2 linked regions of the Homo sapiens genome follow. The protein of the gene in region 1 purifies or fractionates together with the protein of each later gene. This does not show direct contact. Each region holds a gene or a part of one and is shown on either strand. Other genes may lie near its edges.

Evidence for each region. The genes of interacting proteins can lie anywhere in the genome.
Region 2: the proteins of NMI (region 1) and TARS3 purify together in Homo sapiens (affinity purification with mass spectrometry; 3 studies listed by BioGRID and IntAct, with this or other methods). This does not show direct contact.

The regions. Positions count from the first base shown.
Region 1 is NC_000002.12:151,272,657-151,276,309, forward strand, and holds part of NMI (N-myc-interactor), read right to left. Parts: intron 3,209-3,653; coding exon 3,102-3,208; intron 3,015-3,101; coding exon 2,828-3,014; intron 1-2,827. UniProt on the Homo sapiens protein: Acts as a signaling pathway regulator involved in innate immune system response.
Region 2 is NC_000015.10:101,717,854-101,721,506, forward strand, and holds part of TARS3 (threonine--tRNA ligase 2, cytoplasmic), read right to left. Parts: intron 3,470-3,653; coding exon 3,273-3,469; intron 1-3,272. UniProt on the Homo sapiens protein: Catalyzes the attachment of threonine to tRNA(Thr) in a two-step reaction: threonine is first activated by ATP to form Thr-AMP and then transferred to the acceptor end of tRNA(Thr).

The DNA.
Region 1 (3,653 bases):
AAGGTGGAAGCAACCCAAGCATCCACCAACAGATGAACAGATCAACAAAATGGATATATAAAATACACACACACACAGAGAATATTATTCAGCCTTTAAAAAGGATGAAATTCTGATACATACCACAACATGGATGGACCCTGATAACATTATGCTAACCAAAATAAGACAGACAGGAAAAGGACAAATATTGTATAATTCCACTTGAATGAGGTACCTAGAATAGGCAAATTCATAGAGACAGAAAGTAGAATGATGGTTACCAGGGGCTGGAAGAAGAGGTAATGGAGAATTATTGTTAAATGGGTACAGAGTTTCAGTTTGGGGTGATTAAAAAGTTCTAGAGATGGATAGTGGTGATGGTTGTACAACATTGTGAATGTACTTAGTACCCTTGAATTGTACATTTAAAAATTGTTAAAATGGTAAATTTTATGTTATATATATTTTATCACAGTTAAAAAAAAAAAAAAGAGTACAGGTCCTGAGTCAAATAGACCAGCTTCAGTCCTAGCTCTGCTACTTATGAGCTATGTGGCCTTGGATATGTTGCTTGACTTCTTAAAGCCTCAGTTTCTTTTTCTGTAAAATAAGCATAATTACAGTACCTACCCTGTAGATTATTGTGATGAGTCAGTAAGACACAGTTTATGAAGTATCTGGCATATTTATCTCCAGAATACCTTCACATCCTTCAGTAGTTACCTGCTGGATAACCTATAACCTGCAGAAGTATTTTTCCCATCTGGCTAGATGTAACCTCTAGGAGAACATCCCCAGATGGCCCAAGGACACAGGTTCCAAAGCTAGTATTATCTCTCACAGTAGAGTTATAAATTGCATTCTAGTTTATTTTATTTTATTTATTTTATTTCGGTTTTTTTGAGACCGAGTCTCACTCTGTCACCCAGGCTGGAGTGCAGTGATGCAATCTCAGCTCCCTGCAACCTCCACCCCCCAGGTTCAAGCAATTCTCCTGCCTCAGCCTCCCAAGTAGTTGGGACTATAGGCGTGAGCCAGCACATCCGCTAATTTTTGTATTTTTGGTGGAGAAGGGGTCTCGCGATGTTGGCCAGGCTGGTCTTGAACTCCTGGCCTCAAGTGATCCACCCGCCTCCGCCTCCCAAAGTGCTGGGATTATAGGCATGAGCCACTGCGCCTGGCCAGATTTTTTAAAATCCAAGATATAGACAAACTAACACCAAACAGGCTAAATGAATATATGAATTTGGCAAATTAAAATCTGGATGCTTGACTATGGAAGTTTCCACCAAGTTATTGTTCATTTCCAAGACAACATATTACTGTAGCCCTCAAGACCCCTTCCTTTTATAGCTCTCCCTGACACATCCCACCAGGATGTCCTAAACATCATCCAAAAGCTCAGGTCAAAAATGCATATTGGGCCAGGAGCGGCGGCTCATGCTTGTAATCCCAGCACTTTGGGAAGCCAAGGCGGGCGTATCACTTGAAGTCAGGAGTTCGAGACCAACCTGACCAACATGGTGAAACCCCGTCTCTACCAAAAATACAAAAATTAGTCAGGCATGGTGGCATGCACTTGTAATTCCAGCTACTCGGGAGGCTGAGGTGGGAGAATTGCTTGAACCCGGGAAGCGGAGGTTGCAGTGAGCTGAGATAGTGCCACTGCACTCCAGCCCGGGCGACAGAGCAAGACTCTGTCTCACAAAAAAAAAAAAAAAAAAAAAAAAAAAAAGGATATTGACATGTTTTAATGTGCCCAGAGAAAAGCCTGGAAAGACACCCAAATAACCATAACTAACTAAATAGTAGGAGAAAGGGAAGTTTGAGGAAATGTCTCTTTTTGTTTTTTTTTGAGACGGAGTCTCACTCTGTCGCCCAAGCTGGAGTGCAGTGGCGTAGTCTCGGCTCACTGCAACCTCCACCTCCTGGGTTCAAGCTATTCTCCTGCCTGAGCCCCCCGAGTAGCTGGGATTACAGGCATGCGCCACCACACCTGGCTAATTTTTTTGTATTTTTAGTAGAGACGGGGTTTCACCATGTTAGTCAGGCTGGTCTCGAACTCCTCACCTCATGATCTGCCTGCCTCGGCCTCCCAAAGTGCTGGGATTACAGGCATGAGCCACCGGGCCCGGCCGAAATGTCTCATTTTTACTAAATGTTTGCTCTTCTGTATTATTTCACCTTCCTTAAAAAAGCATGTATTACTTTGTCATGAAAAAATCTAATCCATCAATTTTTTTTTTTAATTTTGTTTTTTGAGACAGGGTCTCACTCTGTCTCCCAGGCTGTAGTGCAGTGGTGCAATCACAGGTCACTGCAGCCTCAACCTCCTGGCCTCAAGTAATCCTCCCACCTCAGCCTCCTGAGTAGCTGGGACCACAGGCACGCACCACTATGCCTGGTGATCTCAGCTCACTGCAACCTCCACCTCCTGGGTTCAAGTGATTCTCCCTGCCTCAGCCTCCCAAGTAGCTGGGATTACAGGCACTTGCCACCATGCCTGGCTAATTTTTGTATTTTTAGTAGAGATGGGGTTTCGCCATGTTGGACAGGCTGGTCTTGAACTCCTGACCTCAAGTGATCCGCCTGCCTCCGCCTCCCAAAGTGCTGGGATTACAGGGGTGAGCCACTGCACCCTGCCTATTTGTAGCAATATTATCTTTCCTAGTACTGTCCCTGGAAATAATTTCCTACACTCTACTATTTTATAAGGTTTTTTAAAATCCCCAATTATCATGCTAATACATTCCAAATAAAAGAAGTAGAATAGGAATACTTTCAGAAACAACAGAACATGACTGAAATGGCAGAGTGTCTGTTAACCTTCTACACCCTTGAGTACCTCCAATCTCCACAAACGTGATGACTGCACTCCCGGACTGTCTGTCATAGTCCACGCGGTCCACCTCTCCGCCTCCATTTCGGGACTTTGAAAAGCTCAGCTCTAGTTTGTCTCTCATTTGATCTTCACGCAATGTGTCAGGAATTTCAGTAACATTGATTTTCATTTTAGAAACTTCTACATAAACCTGGAAAATGATTTGATGTTCAGAAATATGGATGAGAGAAGTGCTTGTGATGAACAGAAATCCAAAAAATTTTAATCATCCTGTTACCTGGAATCTGACTCCTGAATTTAATGGAACTGGCTTGGCCGTAACCTCCAGATTTACATCTTTTATCTGTACATGATGTTTACTCATGCTTACCACATTTTGAGCAACTGAAAAATAATTCAGGAAGGAAGTATTAATTTCCAATATTTTAAGAATTGTTATGCTTTTGGTTTAAGAACAAATTATCCTGAATATTTTTAATTTTCTTTAATATTAAAGGGTCTAATTTTAAAAATTTGGCGGGCGGTGATTCCAAGTGATAATGGTCTTGCTACCAAAGTAGAATATATAATTTGGGGGGTCAGGGGGAAGGAGGACCAGATCTCATTCTGTCACTGAAGCTGGAATGCAGTGATGTGATCATAGCTCACTGTAACCTCAAACTCCTGGGCTCAAGAGATCCTCCCACCTCAGCTTCCAGAATAGCTATGATTACAGGTGCATGCCACCACGCCTAGCTAATTTTTTTAACTTTTTGTAGAGACGAGCTCTCACTTTGTTACCCAGGCTGCTCTGGAACTCCTGGACTCAAGCAATCCTCCTGCATCGGAC
Region 2 (3,653 bases), on another chromosome or scaffold:
CAGCTTAGTATATATCTTAAGTAATACAGAAATAAGGACCTGGAAGTAAAAATCCAAAACAAGTGGCACTGGCTTAACAGACTGGCAGTGAGTAACAAGGAAACAGATTCTAACATATGGAGAGCCAATAACCTTTGTGATAGTATATCAAAATATTTGATAAAACTTGCAGGCAAACCATGTGTCACAGTGCTTGTAGCACACAAGAAAGCAGGTATAAAAGGGGAGAGTAGGGCTGGGCGTGGTGGCTTACATCTGTAATCCCAACATTTTGGGAGGCTGCTGTGGGCAGACCACCTGAGGTTGGAAGTTCGAGACCAGCCTGACTAACATGGAGAAACGCCATCCTTACTAAAAATACAAAATTAGCTGGGTGTGGTGGCGCATGCCTGTAATCTCAACTACTCGGGAGGCTGAGGCAGGAGAATCGCTTGAAACCGGAGGGCGGAGGTTGTGGTGAGCCAAGATCGAGAAAAGGGGCGGGGTGGAGGTGGGGGGACAGTGTTGGTATACCCTGGGTAACTCTTGTTGCTTTCAGCAAGAAGCTACAAGAATGAGTTATCTCAGATGAAAACAATCTAGTTTGCCAGCAGAGGTGGAAGGGATAGGGAGGCTCCCTCTGCCCGTGTCCTGTAATTCAACTGACTAAAAGTTCAGAAACGTGGAGCTATGCAAGATGGGAAAGACAATCTTCTTTCCCAAACCGCAGGAGGGACAGGCATTGATAGCCCTTCTCAAAGGCCACACATAAATCCAGACAATAGAGGCCAGTGGAACTGCAAGGATTAGAGAGCAAGAGTGCCTCCCTCCCACAAGCCTCTGCTTCATATGATCTCAGTCCATTAAACAAGGAGACAGGAGTGAGCCGAATAAAAAAGCCATGCAACAACAGGGTGAGAAGTCTCTATCTAGAAGATTCTTTAAGTGAGATTACTTTCATGTGGAACGGATTAGCTGCAAACAGACCAGAGCCTACTATGGCTAACTGATCATGGTAATTGTATTGCCAAACAAATCATAAGCTCAGCTCACAAATATCTGTGACTATGTGATCCTTAAGGGAACCCTCAGGCCCCAAATGTGCACCACAGAACTGAGCTGTGGAAACTGCACAGATCCCAAGAGGACAAACTCGTGCACTTCAGATGTGACAAGTGAGGGTAATGGACAACTCCGAACTTCCCAAAGTGCAAAATCAGGGCCCATGGAGGATCATGGGATAAGACAGCTGCTTCCAGAGAACAAAGGATGAACAGGTGGGCTGACACAAGCACTAACTGCTGCCAGGCTGTGGGGCCTCAAGGTGGCTTCAAGCAGAATCTGATGACTTCTCTATACCACTCCCTGCTATATTTCTCCTCCTTCTTTTTTCCAAGCACACACTTTGTGATTGTCTTCTGTGTACTGTATGCACGTGTGGTGTGAGCAGACTTGTCTATCAGTTTATTTGTTGCTAGAATACAAGTGGTCAGCCTGATGGGGGGTGTTCTGTACATCACTCAGAAATCCCAGGCTTTGAGCTATGGAACATAAGAGTTGTCTCACTTGGGGAGTGAGTGTGTCAGATGTTGAAAGAAGAGTACCCACAGATATCTGGATGTCAGAGGGGCAGACTGTGGCAGACTCTCTGTTGTTCCATAAACCATTCCTCTCTTCCATGGTATGAATGCTTTAGCTGGACATGTGGCTGGGCGGCCAAGGGAGCTATATTCCAATTCTCTCTTACAGCTAGGCATAGCCATGTGACTAAATGTGAGCTAAGAGGATGTAAGTGGAAACTGAAGCCAGCCACTATGGGGTCTTGGCCTCAAAGCATCATTGCTCTGCAGCTTCTCTTCCTCCTGACTGCAGGCAGGCCCATGCAAGGACCCAGCTTCCACCGCTAGACACAAAGAAACCCTACCTAGGAGACAGCAGATCAACAAGATGGGAGGAAGCTGGGTCCATAAATAACTGCATGGACCAGAGATGTCCACTAGGCTTGACTGGTCACTTCTAGACGGTTAGCTTGCATTAGAAGCCCCTGGAGAGCTCATAAAAACACTGATGGCTGATCAATTCAGGGGGTTTGAGGTGGGATCCCCAAATTTGCTTTTCTAACAAGTTTCCAGGTGATGCCCATGCTGCTGGTCTGGGGACTACACTTTGAGAAATACTGACCCAACACATTTAACATGCAACCTGACTCTCCATGAGAAAACAAACTTATTCTTGCCTCAAAACCTGTTTTCTCCTAGCACATCATTCCTCCTGGAAAACATGAAAACAGGCTGGGAGAGCATTTAACAATATAATAGGATGAATCAGAAATACAATCTTAGCCATAGTTTTCAAAGAAAATCTGAGAATTTCAGTTGTTGAAACAGTTTGCTTTTTAAATGATGAACATTTATTTACATGGCATTAATACAATTGTATAGAAGCTATATAATTGTATTTATACAATAGCTTCTATACAATTGTATTTAATGCTAAGAATTAACATGAGTCAAAACAATATAAGTTCACTAATGTATCTAATTTCTAGAAAAGTCAAAGCACTTTTCCAAGACTGATAATAGCTCTAAAACATTTATCTTCAATCTATACTTAAAAGACCTGTAAAAACTCATGGAAATTACTTGATTGACGAATAAAGTCAGTGTAAAATGGCCTATCAAGAATTACAGATTTTTTTCTCTCCTATATATTTTTATTAGAACAGGAAATGATTGTGTTCTGATATTCAACTACTTATTTACATGGCCCTTGGAGAAGCCAGAGGAAAAAAATTAAATACATTTAATTTATTCAACTGAATAAAAAAAAAATTAGCTGATATGGTTTGGCTGTGTGCCCATCCAAACCTCATCTTGAACTCTAGTTCCCATAATCCCCACGTTTTGTGGAAGGGACCCAGTGGGAGGTAACTGAATCACAGGGGCTGTTACCTCCATGCTGTTCTTTGATAGTGAGTGCATTCTCATGAGATCTGATGGTTTTATAAGGGGTTTTCCCCCCACTTTGCTCTGCACTTCTCCTTGCCGCTGCCATGTGAAGAAGGACATGCTTGCTTCCCCTTCTGCCACGACTGTAAGTTTCCTGAAGCCTCCCCAGCCCTGCGGAACTGTGAGTCAATTAAATCTTCTTCCTTTATAAATAACCCAGTCTCAGACATGTCCTTTTAGTATCGTGAGAATGGAGTAATATATTAGCGGTCCCTAAGAAAACATTTTCACCAGGCTTCAGTATAATTACTTAAGATTGAATATCTTTTCCACACTGCGGTTTACCTAATTTCAGCAGCCACTTGGTAAGGCGTTGTTTTCCAGACTTCCCCTTGCACTGTTTGCCCATCAGCCACTCTTACTGTGATGATGTTGCTTGTATCCCCCTTTTTTCCATAAATGGCAAGTAAGAGCTGATGGTCTTTCTTCAGTATTTCAAAAAGCTTCAATCTTTCTTTTATGAAAATTGGTTGATGCTTCACCTGGAAATTATTAGAACATAATGAGATTAATATATACAGCCTACTGTTTTCCAGCTGCTCAGCTCTGAATCAGGCTCACCCCCTTACTGCCTTCTCAGTTCTACAGATGGTCCCAAGCTTACCATGGTTTGAATTACGATTTTGTTGTTGTTGTTGTTTTTTGGTTTGTTGTTGTTGTTGCTGT